Regions from separate parts of the Homo sapiens genome. Here regions 1, 2, 3 and 5 are each reported to be linked to region 4. The links are microRNA targets in miRTarBase. Many come from high-throughput screens and were not tested one by one. Region 4 holds a microRNA gene; each other region holds the end of a gene's coding sequence.

Region 1 (3,000 bases), not on the chromosome of region 4:
AAACCTTCACTGGAGAGACTATAATAATCAATTTTGAATATTTGAATATGTGATGAGAGGAATTTTGTGTGTGTGGCTCCCGAGATAAGACAGATAGAAGCAAATTTCAGTTCAGTATATGAAAATTCATTTATTTAGTGAAACCCTGACATTAAAGCGTCCCAACACAAAGCAGATTCGAACATAACAACTGGTGATTGGCTCATCTCACAGGCTCACATCATCAGTGTGTTAACATACAATAGGACTGTACCCTTTTACAGGATTGAGTGTTTTGGATCCCACTCACACACTAAAACCCTGCCATAAAGTTGTATCAATTAGGGCTGTTCAAATGTGAAACTGTATTGGAAAATGGGAAACTTTATCTCCTTATATATGTATATTTTTTGAGATGGCGTTTTGCTCTTTTGCCCAGGCTGGAGTGAAGTGGCACGATCTTGGGTCACTGCAACCTCTGCCTCCCGGGTTTGAGCAATTCTCCTGCCTCAGCCTCCCAAGTAGCTGGGATTATAGATGCCTGCCACCACGCCCGGTTAATTTTTTTTTTGCATTTTTAGTGGAGACGGGGTTTCGCCATGTTGGCCAGGCTGATCTCGAACTCTTGACCTCAGGTGCTTCACCCACCTCGGCCTCCCAAAGTGCTAGCATTACAGGCGTGAGCCACCATGCCTGGCCACCATATGTTTTTAAGTATAGGTTGGATGATAATTTGTTGGGAATACCATAGAAGGGATGATGAAATTTAGGCTGGAGATGATCACCAAGGTACTTTCTATCTCTAAGATCCTGCAACCCTTGAAAGACACTCTATTTGACAGTTTCATGAATAAAGGCAGTGACAATGAACAAATTCATAAATTACGGTGTTACATTACATAAAGCTTAGTTTCTTATTAAAATTGGCAAAACTTGTCAATTGGCATGAAATGTAATGCTGTTAAAATATACTTTCTCTTATGGTTACAAATACTAAGTGGCTCACGCCTGTAATCCCAGCACTTTGGGAGGCCGAGGCGGGCTGATTACCTGTGGTCAGGAGTTCGAGACCAGCCCTGGCCAACATGGTGAAACCCTGTCGTCTCTACTAATACAAAAATCAGCCGGGAGCAGTGGCTCAAGCCTGTAATCCCAGCATTTTGGGAGGCTGAGGCAGGTGGATCATGAGGTCAGTTCAAGACCAGCCTGGCCAACACAGTGAAACCCCATCTCTACTAAAAATACAAAAATTAGCTGGGTGTGGTGGTGAGCACCTGTAATCCCAGCTACTCGGGAGGCTGAGGCAGGAGAATTGCTTGAACCTAAGAGACGGAGGTTGCAGTGAGCTGAGATCATGCCATTTCACTCCAGCCTCAGCAACAAGAGCAAAACTCCATCTCAAAAAATATATATATTTATTAGGACAGAAAAGCAAAACCTTACCATAATTCCATAACTATGATTATTGGAATTACAAAGTAAATGAACACTTCAATTGTCTAATAGCAGTGATTTGTCATTAAGGTCTCAGGTCAATAATACATTTAAAATCTAACAAAGTTTGGAAAGATAGTATCATTAAATTATCTTAAAACACTACATTAGTTCATTATTATCCCTGCAGACAAGGATAAAGATGGTTGGTAACACTATAGGTGGCTAAAACAAAGTAAAAGGATCAAAATGGCAAAATTCTTTACTCTGATCATATCATTTGATTAATCACACTTTTATCTATCACATTTTTAGTTTGGAAATAGTTTGCTTATCAATATAGAATTCTACTTTATTGCACAATGTCCAGTTTGGCAACTTTCAGCTATGCTGTGAAGCTAAACAAAAGCAAAGTTGGGTCTAACAAGCTGAAAGAGTTCTGCTCAAAAACCTATTCTGAAAAAGGAACTTGTCAAAACATTTTCACCTTAAAAAAATTTCAGGCCGGGTGCAGTGGCTCACACCTGTAATCACAGCACTTTGGGAGGTCGAGGCGGGTGGATCATGAGGTCAAGAGATCGAGACCATCCTGGCCAACATGGTGAAACTCTGTCTCTACTAAAATTACAAAAATTAGCTGGGCGTGGTGGCGCACACCTGTAGTTCCAGCTACTCAGGAGACTGAGGCAGGAGAATTGCTTGAACCTGGGAGGTGGAGGTTGCAGTGAGCCGAGATTGCACCACCGCACTCCAGCAGAGCAAGACTCTGCCTCAAAAAAAAAAAAAAAAAAAAATTGAACACAGCTACACATCTTTGTCATTTTTGCTCTACTCAATTCTTTCTGAAAAAGTTTATTATTATTAAGGAAATAAAGTGTGGAAGGATCATAGGAAATACTTGCAATAAAAAGAATAATCATTAACATTGGCAACTGCCACTAGGAAGGTGTATATGCCACATACTACTGATAAAAATTGTAGGAACCCATTGGTAGTTCCCATAACCACCATTGATGTGTTAATTCCCACAACATCAAAAATAAAGAATTAGTTCCACAAGCTGTCTGTCAATAATACTCTGAAGGCAACCTATTCATCAGCACCAGAATCCCACTGATTTTCTTCCACATGTTCACAATCTTTTGCCATCAGTCATCTATCGGATTCTACAACTGTTTGGGAGTGTCAGGCTAACAAAAGTCAAAACTGGGCATTGACATTAATGGTAGTTTACTGATGTTTCCCCTGCAAATCTCGTATTTTCTGATACTAAAATTTTGCACAGAAGTTGGATTTCAAAAGGCTAATTGCATGTTCTATCTGAAATCTTATAATTATAGTACTTCTACGAAAAAAGATGTCTAGTAACATAAATTGCTTCTGCATCGGTTCCACAAACAAGACAAGGACCTAAAACATCCAAAGTGTTCACAGACAGAGACCTACTGGGAAGTAAGCTTGTGATTTCAATTCGGTCTTTTGCAGGATCAGTGCTGAGCCAGGAGCTAATGACAGACTGGTGAACATTAGCTTGGTTACTAATGCTATGAGACAAAAAAGTACTGCTTCTTCCTCCTGGGAGAAAAA
Region 2 (3,000 bases), not on the chromosome of region 4:
CTCTTTGAGGTATGCTCCTTAAAATCTGTAACATTTTTGGTGCAAGTCTCTCATATCTGTGAAACATATATTATTTTAGCTAGAAGCTCTTAGATTATATTACTTAATAAGAGGAGTGTTATTTCTAGCTTATTCCAGAGTCTTTATATTTCCAGTTTTCTAGAAAACAGCATTTTATTCTGTTGATTTTAAGTTTTAAGAAATGTCAACTTGTTTTTACATGCATTATTCTAAAAATTCTAAAATTCCTATAGTCATTATAACCTACCATAATATTTTTTTCAGGTACATGGTAAAGCATAAATCGCACTTGAGATTCTGAATTATTTGGCTCCTCCATTTCTGGAAATTGAGACTCAAGCTTTATGAATTTATCAAGAACTTAAAAATGAAGAAGGTCACAGATTGATCTTTTATAAGACCTTATTTGATGCTTTGTGCTTCAAGGAGATGATACCTGTCATCCATATAAGCAAACTTTTTGGCTTACAACTATTTTTTTAATATTAGCCTTCTAGTCTGTAATGGAAATTGTATATTTTGATAGAAGTTTTTTCTCCATTGGTTAAATTAGCATTACTTAAAATTTGTTTCTTTAGAAAATAAATGCAGGTTATAAATGTGTGTATATTTAGAGATTATAAGGCTCTCTGAGCCATCTTCTGATTTTTCATTGCTCTATAATTCTTTTTACTGAAAATACTATGTTATGAATGGTATTAAATTTTAGTCTCTGGAACATCCAAAACCAAGCAAAGGGATGTGACTATTTTGAATGAATCAGAATGTCAACTTGTATGTACACTATATCTACACTTACTCATTATTTAAAAAGAATAATGAAAAATCTAGATCAATTCTTCAATTTGATTGAACTGTTCAGCCTTTTCAAGATTTCTTTATTTACAAATGATTACATTTAAATGAATGTACATTCTTCTCACTGACTTTGGTGATTTTGAAACCTAGAATGATGTGTTTCTATCTGTAATATCTTTCCATTTGAAAAAAATCTCAAAACACAGATTAAAACCACAATAGGCTGTAGTATTTTTTATTTTGGGAGCCAGAGTATGATTTGGGGGAAGAATATGTATCAGCCCTATTGCAGTATAACTTTAAGCTCCTTTTCTCTTTAGTCCACTTTTGATTGTAATTTTTATGGTATAGGATTTTGAATCTTCTATTTTAGGCTTGTCAGTCTTGGAGTTCTTATCTTCCATTATCCCTAAATATTGATAAACTCCCAGGCACCAAAGAAAACATTTGCTTAATTGTCTGAAAAGAAACAAGAGAAAAACACTGGTATTTTTATGTCTGTATTCAATATGGTATAAAATATAAAAACTATATTTTAACTTAGTGAAATATTTTACTATTTCTCTACTTCAGACAAAATGTTGCATCCAAGGTACATCAAGTGACCATTTGCCTTGAACCTTGATTTCACTTTGTTTTTTTTTTTTCCTTAAAGGCAACTAGGAAGCTTTACTTTCCTAAAGTGTTTTTGCCATTGGAATTTTTGCTGATCACAGTCTTATGTCATTTTTTTCTCTGTTTTTATTCCCAGCAATTTTCTCCTAGGTTAACATATTTTTGGTGAACGTTTAGGCCTTTCATAGGTATTAAGCTGACATTATCTAGCTTCTTAATGAAATTTAACACTGTCACAAAAATGAGAAGTTATTATTTTTTAAGTGATCACATAGTTCATACCACTAGTAACTAGAAAAGATATTTATTCACATGATATTTACAAGGCTCTTCAGAAGGGAACAGTCAGCATTTTAAATTACTAGATTTTAGCATACTTAACAAGGTTTGAACAGATTCTACCCCTATTTTCCTCCCTTTTTAGCGTCTTCTTTCCTTAAAGATAAAAGAAAACTCAAATTTGTTTACATTAGGCTTTCTTAGCATATAAATATATTTCCAAAATAAATTACATGTTGTGTAAACTTTCTCCATGATGAAATAGTCAAGGACCAGAATCTGTAATATTTTTATGTAAGATTACTTGTCAAGACTACTACAAGTCAGTATGAACTACCTTCCCATAAAGATTTTTGGTATTTGTACTTATTTATGAACTTTACTTGAGACAGAATATGGTTAAAATTAGGAACATCTACTTTGAATGAGGTTTATTTTTCTATTTTGAATTTGCCTTATGTATATTCAAAGGCTTATGGAAATACTGTAAAGGAACATTAGGAAAAGGACAAATAGGCTATAACCATCTATCTTAAAATCAGACCCTTAGTATAAGCACCTCTTTTTCTTTTCCTCTTTGACAATTTAGTCTCTTATTTAGGTCCATGTAATTAATTTCATTCCATTATTTTTTAGCTGTTTATTCTAAAAAACAAAAATTTTCAGCCACTCCCATTTATTCTCCCATGACATGGTCCTATATAGCAGTACTTAACACAGTGCCTTGCACATAGTAGGCATTCAGTAAATACTTACATGCATGAATGAATAATGTATTTTCAGTGTAACAAATTTATTATAAAAGTGTAGTTCGACTCTTCTTGGTCTTGGAGTTTGAGAGTACAGAATTACAGGGAATGAAGAGAGGTATAAGTAGATATTTTAATGGAAATGAAGTATAAATTAATAACTTGACTTACCCCTCCATAAGTTACTGCTAACTGGAGATACCCTTGTATGCCCAACCTGTAAAGGAAAAAGTTCTATTTCTATATTTATAGGACATTCTTCTCAGTCAAGGAACAGTAAGAAATATGTAGGTTTCAATCAGTTGCTCTCAACCCTGACTGCATTTTAGAATCATTTGGAGAGTTTTTAAAAATATCCATGCCTGAATCTTGATTCCCATTTTCATGTAATTTGAGACAAGACCTGGTCATCAGTATTTTTTTTAAAGTTCTCCAGGTAATTTGAATGTGCAGGAAGGATTCAGAATCACTGGTTTAATTTGTTATTGAAAACAGTACCAGTATTAAATGTGTTTCCTCTTCCTTCTTTTCTGTATGT
Region 3 (3,000 bases), not on the chromosome of region 4:
CTGGGTTTCATCCAGGTCTCCCAAGGCTTACCCCTCATCTTCTGTTCTGGATCTCTATGACTGACCCTTAGATGAGAGGATTCCTGAGAGCAGGGGCCAGTGTCACCTCCATCAATCTTTTTATTTTTCTTTGAGACAGAGTCTTGCTCTGTCGTTCAGGCTGGAGTGCAATGGCACGATCTCGGCTCACTGCAACCTCTGCCTCCTGGGTTCAAGTGATTCTCCTACTTCAGCCTCCCAAGTAGCTGGGATTATAGGCATGCGCCACTGCGCCCAGCTAACTTTTGTATTTTTAGTAGACACAGGGTTTCACCATGTTGGCCAGGCTGGTCTTGAACTCCTGACCTCAGGTGATCTGCATGCCTTGGCCTCCCAAAGTGCTGGGATTACAGGTGTGAGCCACTGCACCTGGCCACCTCCATCAATCTTTACCCTCAAACCCGCAAGTCCCCAGACCTGGCTTCATCCTACCTAGGTGTTGGCTGGATGATATCATCATCCATTGACCTGGGGTTGGTAAAGGCTGGGGAGTGGGTGGAAGCAGATGCAGCTGCATACAAACTGGGAGCTGTTTATTGGTCGCCGTGAGAAGCCTATATACAAAGAAGGCACAAGGAGGGGGAGGGAATTCCCCTGCTACAGTACCATGGAAGGGGCTGGGGCTGGGGAGTGGGCCTGCCAACAGGCAGGGGTCAGGAGAGGTTTTCTGGAACTAGCCTCAGCTTCTCAAATGGGCCTTAGGACACAGCCCATGGGGGAGGGGGCAGAGCCAGGCTGGCTCTGAAAGCCAAGGATAGCTAAGAACTCCACCTCTAGGCCCCTGACGCATGGTCAGCGTGGGGTCTGGCTGGATGGGGTGGGGCAGGGCCCCCTGCCTATTCTACATTCAAGTGTCGCTCCCTCCGTGGTCTTGCAGGGTCTCTCTGGGGCCTTCTGAGGCTGGCTGGTAGTGGTGAGTGAGAAGTGGCATCTCCTCTGTATCCTCCCAACATCTGTCTGTCCAGAATTGGTCCCCTCCTCTCTGTGGAGGATCCCGCCGTGCCCCAGCACAGTGAGCCCAGGCTACGTTGCCGTTTGCCTGTCTTTGTTCCTTCCTGCTGCATTCCCTGCGAGTTCAGTCTGTGGCCAAGGAGAGAGGCTTCACAGAGATGCAGGAAAGCAAGCCGTTCTGGGTCCTTCTTTCTAGTTCCTTTGCTGTTGGGTCTGAGCACGCCAGGTCCTCCAAGTGCCCCCGTAGACAACCTTAGGCAGGATCCCCACCTCTCTGGCATGGGTGTCATTGGGGGCCCACCAGCCAGCGGCCCGGGGGCTGCTCCCTGTCAGTAGTTTTGACAGCAAAGTCAATCCAGTGACTGTGGCTCAAGATGGATCCAGTGTGAAAGGGGGAGGTGTCACCACATTGCAGGGGCCTTTTCCTCCCGGCTCTGGTGGGAGGCTCTTTGGCTTGTTTTGGCGCTGGCAGAGGCTGAGACACGGCGAGCCCATGCACCATCCGTGATGCACCAGCACAGTCCACGAGCAGTGGGCCCCACGTGCATCTAGGGCACAGGAATGCAGTGCACTCGGCGTTGTAAGGTCCACAGCGCTGGCCCTCCTGTGGGAAGATCCCCAGGGCCAGACAGCATGTGCATGCTCTTGACGAGGTGTATGTGCCTGAGCCTGCTGCTACCAGCCAAAGGTGGTGGCCCCTGTGGACTGTCAGAGGCATAACTTATGATAAATAGGAAGAAAGGGGACACTGGGGGAGGAGGGGGTGGGATCAGGGAGGACGTCAGTAGTATTGGTCCCGAGTCTGCCAGCTGGTCACCCAGTGCTTCTTGGTGGGCAGGGTGCTCCCTGGAGGTGGGTAGCGCTCCTCCTCCCGGATCCGCACTGCGTGGTACTTGGGCATGATCTGATAATAGCGGGTCCGCTTAAAGAAGTCACACTGGAGTTGGAGGGAGAAGAGAAAGAACATTAGCATCCAGAGTTTGAGCCACCAGGAAGGAGTGCCAGGCCTCTCCCTCTCCCACCCAGAACTCCTCAAAGCCAGAACTCTTGACCGAAACGCATCCCATCTCTCTGCACTGAGATACGGAGGATGAGTTTCTCCACCCCAGGCCCCAGAGGAAGAAGGAGTTGAGGAAGGCAGAGAGCAGAGGAAGAGGCAGATGGAGACCGAGGGCAGCTGCAGAGACAGTGGATGGAATGGCCAGGAAGACTGGGCAGTCTACCCTGACCACAATGTTGGGAATGGGTCCATTTGTTATCCTGGAAGGGTTGCTCAGGAGGAAACAGGCTAGTTCCCAGGAGGAGGGTCTCTACTGCTCCCCTCCTTCCCTAGGGGTGGAAATGGGAGTGTAGAATTATTCTGGACATGGCTGTGGTTTACAGAGATGGGGCCTGGCCTTGCCCTTGACCTTGTTCCAATCCCCAGAAAGCAAGGTCATCACAGAGAGGATTTATGCCTCCCTCATGGGGTCCCAAGTCACCAAGGGGCTTAGGGGGAGGCTGATGAAAGCCAGACACCCAGGGGGCTGGAGGGACAGTCAGAGTGACCTGATCTTTGGGGTGGTGGTGGGGACAGAATGAGGTCAGAGCAGGCCCATAAGGGAAGAGGAGCAGATAGGACAGAGTCAGAGGCCCGGCCAGCTGTGGGGCTCGGGGAAGGGGGCCCGGAGGCCGTGTTACCCAGGTGGGCCGGGGGCGGGGGGCTGCCCCCTCAGTAGTCGTCGGTCAGCCTCTCTGTCTCTGACGGCTGGCTCTTCATCTCCGCCTTCTGCCTCTTAGCTTCATACAGGGCGCGAGTGCGGGCTCGCTTGAAGAAGCCGCACTGCGGAGGGGAGGAGGTGGGGACGGGCCATCAGGGGGGCGCTGGGCTATCCTCACCAGCAGCACTCGTGGACCAGGGCTTTAGGGCTGGGGAGCCTGGGGGCTGGGGCTCAGTCCCAGCTTGGTGGTGTGGTCAGAAGCCAGAGCTCCTGGGTCCCCCTTTCCAGCTTGCAGCTCCCCCCACTAACC
Region 4 (3,149 bases):
TGGGCCCATGAGGCTGAGTGAGCTGGGCCTGGGCATTCACGATTGCTTTTCTCCTCTCCCATTTCAGGTCCCAGCAGCTGGGGTTCCCCCTCAGCCCGTGAGCAGCCATGTCCAACCCCAGCGCCCCACCACCATATGAAGACCGCAACCCCCTGTACCCAGGCCCTCCGCCCCCTGGGGGCTATGGGCAGCCATCTGTCCTGCCAGGAGGGTATCCTGCCTACCCTGGCTACCCGCAGCCTGGCTACGGTCACCCTGCTGGCTACCCACAGCCCATGCCCCCCACCCACCCGATGCCCATGAACTACGGTGAGTCCTGGAAGGGCAGATGGAAGGTGGGTGGGAGGGACAGCACTTGGAGCAGATGAGGCCACCGCCTCCTGCCCCTTTTCTCTTCTAGTTTCCCTTAAATCCCTTTCTCATCTTCTCTGTTGAGATCTCTCCCTCTGTTTCTGTCTTTGTTACCCTCCACTTTTTGCCTCAGCAACTGGCCCCCAGCCACTTGCTGCCCCCTTTGTTCAAGGAGATCCATGAGGCATGTCCCAGAACGTACACACCACAGGAGAATGGGGCTGGGCCAAGTAATGACTCCTGAGGGGTTACCTCAGGGCACCAGCTCTGTTTCCCAACAAGCGGCCAACAAGCTGCTGCCACCTCCCAGACCTGTCGACTTCCTTAGGAACTCCTTTGGGAACCTGAACCACTTTCCTCATCCTTTAAAGTGAAATCTGACTTTTGCAAAAGACATTTGGAGCCAAGTTTGGTAAACATCATGGCAGGGACATGCTTGTGTTTGGTCAGAAATGAGGTGAGGCCGGCCGCGGTGGCTCACGCCTGTAATCCCAGCACTCTGGGAGGCTGAGGCGAGCAGATCACCTGAGGTCAGGAATTCGAGACCAGCCTGGCCAACATGGCAAAACCCCATCTCCACTAAAAATACAAAAACTTAGCCGGGTGTGGTGGCGTGCACCTGTAATCCCAGCTACTCAGGAGGCTGAGGCAGGAGAATCGCTTGCAATCCCAGGAGGTGGAGGTTGCAGTGAGCCAGGATCGCACTACTGCACTTCAGCCTGAGCAACAGAGCAAGACTCTGTCTCAAAAAAAAAACCAAAAAAAAAACAAAAAACAAAACAAAACAAAAAAAGAGGCCGGGTACGGTGGCTCATGCCTGTAATCTCAACACTTTGGGAGGCTGAGATGGGCGGATCACGAGTTTGAGACCAGCCTGGCCAACATGGTGAAACCCTGTCTCTACCAAAAATACAAAAAATGAGCCGGGCGTGGTGGCATGCGTCTGTAATCCCAGCTACTCAGGAGGCTAAGGCAGGAGAATTGCTTGAACCCGGGAGGTGGAGGTTGCGGTGAGCCGAGATCACGCCTTTGCACTCCAGCTTGGGCAACAAGACCGAAACTCCATCTCAAAAAAAAAAAAAAAAAAAAAAAGGAAATGAGGTGAAGTTAGAGTGCAGTGAGTCTTCCTGGGTGGCTCAAGCGTGGATTTTAAAAGTAGTTCCCAAAGAGGCATTCAGGCATTCAGGCATTCAGGGAATGTTTGCAGCCCTGCAGCATCTCTGAACCCCAGAGGGGTGTCAGCCAGCTCTCACCTGGACATGTGCGCTGGTGCGGATCTGCGCATGGGTCCTGCACAGTCACGCACACCCTTTGCACACCTGCCTCTGTGAGGCTGATGCAGATCCCTGTCTTCACCTCTATCCCTGCTGCTGCACAAACTGCGCTCTGCCGCCCTCCTTTTCTCCTACCCTCTGTCCCCATCCCCTGTTCTGCCCTGGCTGGCTGCCCCAGTGGATGCCCATACCTGCTCCTGCCTGGCTTCCCCACTACATCGTGACCCCCCAGTGAACCCCCAGTGGCGTGGGCTGGGCACACAGGAGCCCTCCACAGATGCACGTGAGGAACGTTTCCCACCTAAGCCCCCTCGTGACAGGCCGGCTCTGGGTCACTCTGAGGGTGTCTAGAAGACCCCAGCTTGGGAGAAGAGTTCCTGTTATAACACTTGTCTTTTGGCTGGAGATCCCTGAGACTTTGAGATTGTCAGGGAGGCTTTGGGATTGACGCCACATGTCTCAGGTCCCCAGCTGAGTCAAGTGTCATCTGTCCCTAGGCCCAGGCCATGGCTATGATGGGGAGGAGAGAGCAGTGAGTGATAGCTTCGGGCCTGGAGAGTGGGATGACCGGAAAGTGCGACACACTTTTATCCGAAAGGTAAGATACGCGCTGGGAGGTGGGTGTACCTGGGGCCCCTCAGGCTGTGGGAATGGGAAGTGGGTAGGCCACAGTAGCCCCAGGGCATCAATTCCATGAAATACACTGGCTGCCTGTCTTCTCTAGCCTTGTCTGCTTCTCAGAGGGGCACCTGGCTTCTCTAACCCCAGGGTTCCCTCTCTTTTTGCACCTCTCTTCTTGACCATGTTTTGGGAGGACACATTCAGTCTGGGAGAATCTCCTAGGTGGGTTCTGCCACAGCGCCCGCCTTCCCCAGACATCTTTCTCCCTTTAGACTATAGGCAGCTTGGAGCCAGAAATGATCCTACTCGCTTGTAACCCACCCTCTCCATCTCACAGCTGCATAGAGCGTGCAGACTGAGCTGCTGGGAGTGCAGAGGCCATACTGGTAGAGTATGGTGGCCAGGCAGGGCAAGTCAGTAGTCACCGAGGCTGGTGTTGGACAGGAGGGGAGATGGCAGGGAGCATGGGAGCGGGGCTGAGGAAGAAGTGCACATTGCCTCTGAGCCAGGCATCTCACTGGGGTCGCCTCTGGGCCAGGCTGCAGCTAGGGAGGGTTCTTGAGTGGGAGGAAAGTACTGGGGGCTGGCAGCTTCCTGGGGCAGGCCAGGGGTGCCGGATGGTGACCCATGCCCGGCCGTCTGTGTCCAGGTTTACTCCATCATCTCCGTGCAGCTGCTCATCACTGTGGCCATCATTGCTATCTTCACCTTTGTGTAAGTCTCTAGGCTTTGCCACCCACTCCTACTGCCCTGGGGGTTCAGGGTCACCTGCTGGGGGTGTGGGTGGCGGTGGGCCCTGCTCTCAGGGTGACCATGGGCAATTAGAGAAGGTGAAGCCAGGGCTGCCTGGCTGGCCTGGGTGGGGCAGACAAGCCTCAGGGTGACTACTCCTGTCCTCCTGTG
Region 5 (3,000 bases), not on the chromosome of region 4:
GATTGTGCCGTTGCGCTCCAGCCTGGGCAACAGGAGCGAAACTCCATCTCAAAAAAAAAAAAAAAAGGAAAAGAAAGTCACATTATTATTGTGAATAAATATCTGCATTTCCTTAAGCCTTTGGCAGGCTATGTTACCCCTATCTTTTGAGAATGTACTTGAAAAGTGAGGGCAGTACCTTCACCTTATACCTGCATTTCTTCAGGCTAAGTATCACCTGTTTACTATTTATTATCCATCCTTTATAAGCAACATATTGCAACAGTCTTTTCTAAAAGGATGCCCACTTGTGGCAGCACAGGTTCTGAAAATTTCTTCAAAATCAAGAAATCTGCTAATACATTGAGAGGTTGTGATGGAACAAACACTCTCATTTACATTACATTAATGTAAATCAGGAGAATTTCTTTTGGAGGAAAATTGGCAATATCCATCAGTCTTAAATACGTAACCTTTGTCCCAGTAACTACGCTGCTCCCGATTTATGTGCACATGTGCCAGTGTAGCATAATGTATGAGGAAAGTCAACTCCATCATTAGGAGTAGGCTATTAAGCAGTCACTGAAAGAATGGGTAGACCTATATGCACTAACGTGAAATGTCCACATACAAAGGGAAAAAAGCATGTCACAGCACATATAGGTCACTACCACTTTTAAAAGACACATTTATACGAATGTGCTTTGAATGTCTGAAGGAGACACTAAAACTGGGTAAGAGTGGTTACTTCTGGGGAGAGGACCTGGGGGACTGGGATGAAGAATGGAAAGGAGATGCTGTCTCTGACTTTTGCCCTATTTGAATTTTTTTGTCATGTGTATGCACTTCCTTTTCATTGCTGATGGTTTTTTAAAGGCACCAGACCAGGGAATGTAAGTTACTGAGTGAAGAACTCTCTCACCATTGGTGCTTTTCTGAAGGGAATCTGTGTAGCCCAGATACAAACCCTTGTGTGGGACGGCTGTCCACCTACTACTCGCTGGTTTACCCATTGGACTTGTGTCTGTCCTCCCTAAGGCCAAATTTTCCCCACTCCAGTCTATATGGAAAAAATAAGCCTCTGTGTCTGAAGCCCTATTTCTGGCCTACAAGTGGGGCGTGTGGACACACGAGACAAATGGAGGTCTGTTAATGGTAGGGCAACTGCAAAATAAATCATGCCTGAACACAGGCACAAAATGGAAGTTATCTGGATACATTTGCAAAGATTTATATTCAGAAAGGTAGTTTTGTTATTTATTAAGTGTTTATTAAATGCCTCCCTAAAGGTCCTGGATGCCACTAGAACCTTTAGTTAGGACTGAGATGTATATGCAAGAGTGGCACATATCAAAATATCTGCTCATTGGTTCAGATCCAACGTAAGTTTTCCTTGAACCAGAACCTCATATTAACTTACAGTACTCAATGGCACAGCATCCTCTAATTTAAAGATTTTAAAACAAAAACATAACCAGAAGACCCAGTTTTCAAAATTGCTGTTAAAGGCCAACAAATTAGTGGGAGGGAAGGAATAAAAAGGAATAACCTCTCTTAAAATAACAAATCTACAAAGTCCTCTGCCACAAAAGCAGATCTTTGTCATTTCCCATGAGATAATCATCACCTTGCTGAAAATGAGAAAGGCACCCCCCGCAGGCAGGGGGAAAAAACCCACTCGCTGAAACAGCTTCTACTTGTTTTTACCATATATTCCAGGGGTTATGTGTGTGGAGGGGTTGTTTTTACATTTATACAGTTTACATTGCTTGACCCATAAGTAACACTTGTAAGATTAATAGGGCCATAGTTTTAAAGAGTACTTACATAGCCCCACCATGCATACAGAGCCTTTTTTAATATTGGAAAAAAAAATCAAAAAAAGTTGAATTTTCCATCACTAGGCAATGTAAATTTGACCATCTACATTTATAAACCCTGACTAAAATATAAGCAATCAGTTCATCCATAAATTCTGGTTCCCTGGCAAATCTAGCACTGCAGCGTAACAAACGGCTTACAATTCAGGGATATAAAAATATCAGCTTTAAAATCTGAACTGTACAGTATATACATTAATATTTGCACCGTTAAATTAGGAATACACTTAAGTCTATGAAATACTAAGTTATAAATAGCAATGTTTTTTGTTTTTTTTTTTCAATCTGTAGCTGGCGCTGATACAATACAATGTTTACCTGGCCAAAGAGGGTTCGAGGGGACAAGCTGGCCTCACAATAAGATGCACAGTGTTAGCTAGGTCATCGTGACAGGCATGCCTCACACCAAGACGGACTATCAAGACCTGAGCCGACCTGACTTACATAAATGACAAACACTAGTGCTTTACAAAGGTGGCTGGAGTTCTCCATCTTCTAAAATCAACATCCAATCCCCTTCAGTCAGCATCTTCAGTATTCCCTTGAGGACTGGAAAACCAAAGCAGCTACGTCCATCTGTAACGCACCCGCACCGGACAGGCACGAGATGTCACGTCCACCTGGCACCATCCAAAGAGGGTAAATTGGAGAAATCACACCTTTCAAATGTTAATCTGACACTGTAAACAGCAGTTGAGTTCTCATTTACATGGGCAAAGAAAGCACTTTAAACTATTTTCACAACTTTCCTACGGAAGAAAAGGAAACGATTCAGACGGTTAATGGCTAAGTTTTAAACAAATGCTCTGCATCACTACTTGGTTAAGAAATAATACAATTTTTGCCCTTGTGTCCCTTTTTCTTCTTGGATTTTGTTGTCCTCTGACCAAACTGAGGGGTGGGAAGTGCAGATGGTGGACTAGAAAGGTCATCTGTATAGTAGGCAAATCTCTGTGGCCGGGGTTGAGGGATTGGTTGTCCAAGAAAATATCCTTCTTCTTCCGAGTCGGAAGAGGAGGAGGAGGAAGAACACCAGGAATCATCATCCTCGCCGTAGAGTCCCAGAAACCGATTCATTCCTGGGTTCTGCAGGCCATAATCGGAAGTGGCATGGGCGTACTGTCCGTAGAGATCAGCATTC

The links. Region 4 holds the annotated microRNA hsa-miR-6513-5p (UUUGGGAUUGACGCCACAUGUCU, at 2,063-2,085, shown strand). A microRNA usually pairs through its seed, bases 2 to 8, with sites in the 3' UTR of a target mRNA and lowers its output. Matches are read on the target gene's strand: a 7mer-m8 pairs with bases 2 to 8, a 7mer-A1 pairs with bases 2 to 7 and ends in A, and an 8mer does both.
Region 1: miRTarBase lists NUP43 as a target of hsa-miR-6513-5p. Seed matches in the 3' UTR shown: 7mer-A1 at 2,589-2,595, 7mer-A1 at 1,953-1,959, 7mer-A1 at 1,139-1,145 and 7mer-A1 at 1,003-1,009.
Region 2: miRTarBase lists CDC73 as a target of hsa-miR-6513-5p. The part of its 3' UTR that is shown has no 7-base or 8-base seed match.
Region 3: the mRNA of ITGA3 is a reported target of hsa-miR-6513-5p. The part of its 3' UTR that is shown has no 7-base or 8-base seed match.
Region 5: the mRNA of PRICKLE1 is a reported target of hsa-miR-6513-5p. The part of its 3' UTR that is shown has no 7-base or 8-base seed match.

What each region holds. Positions count from the first base shown.
Region 1 is chr6:149,724,211-149,727,210 of GRCh38, forward strand. It overlaps NUP43 (nucleoporin 43), which reads right to left. Exons shown (of 8, transcript NM_198887.3): 8 at 105-2,988. The coding sequence ends at 2,759. Among named protein-coding and RNA genes, the nearest start is that of LATS1, 7.6 kb to the left of the region's middle. RefSeq lists a silencer at 317-519.
Region 2 is chr1:193,250,391-193,253,390 of GRCh38, forward strand. CDC73 (cell division cycle 73) reads left to right here. Exons shown (of 17, transcript NM_024529.5): 17 at 286-3,000. The coding sequence ends at 322. Among named protein-coding and RNA genes, the nearest start is that of LINC01031, 53 kb to the right of the region's middle.
Region 3 is chr17:50,088,037-50,091,036 of GRCh38, reverse strand. ITGA3 (integrin subunit alpha 3) reads right to left here. Exons shown (of 26, transcript NM_002204.4): 25 at 2,671-2,812; 26 at 556-1,927. The coding sequence ends at 2,702. Among named protein-coding and RNA genes, the nearest start is that of PDK2, 5.8 kb to the left of the region's middle.
Region 4 is chr2:218,279,100-218,282,248 of GRCh38, reverse strand. MIR6513 (microRNA 6513) reads left to right here and starts at 2,061; the gene lies at 2,061-2,124. The region is part of intron 2 of PNKD (PNKD metallo-beta-lactamase domain containing); the gene reads right to left. It overlaps TMBIM1 (transmembrane BAX inhibitor motif containing 1), which reads left to right. Exons shown (of 12, transcript NM_022152.6): 2 at 68-309; 3 at 2,123-2,223; 4 at 2,896-2,960. The coding sequence starts at 108.
Region 5 is chr12:42,457,128-42,460,127 of GRCh38, forward strand. It overlaps PRICKLE1 (prickle planar cell polarity protein 1), which reads right to left. Exons shown (of 8, transcript NM_153026.3): 8 at 1-3,000. The coding sequence ends at 2,682. Among named protein-coding and RNA genes, the nearest start is that of PRICKLE1, 130 kb to the right of the region's middle.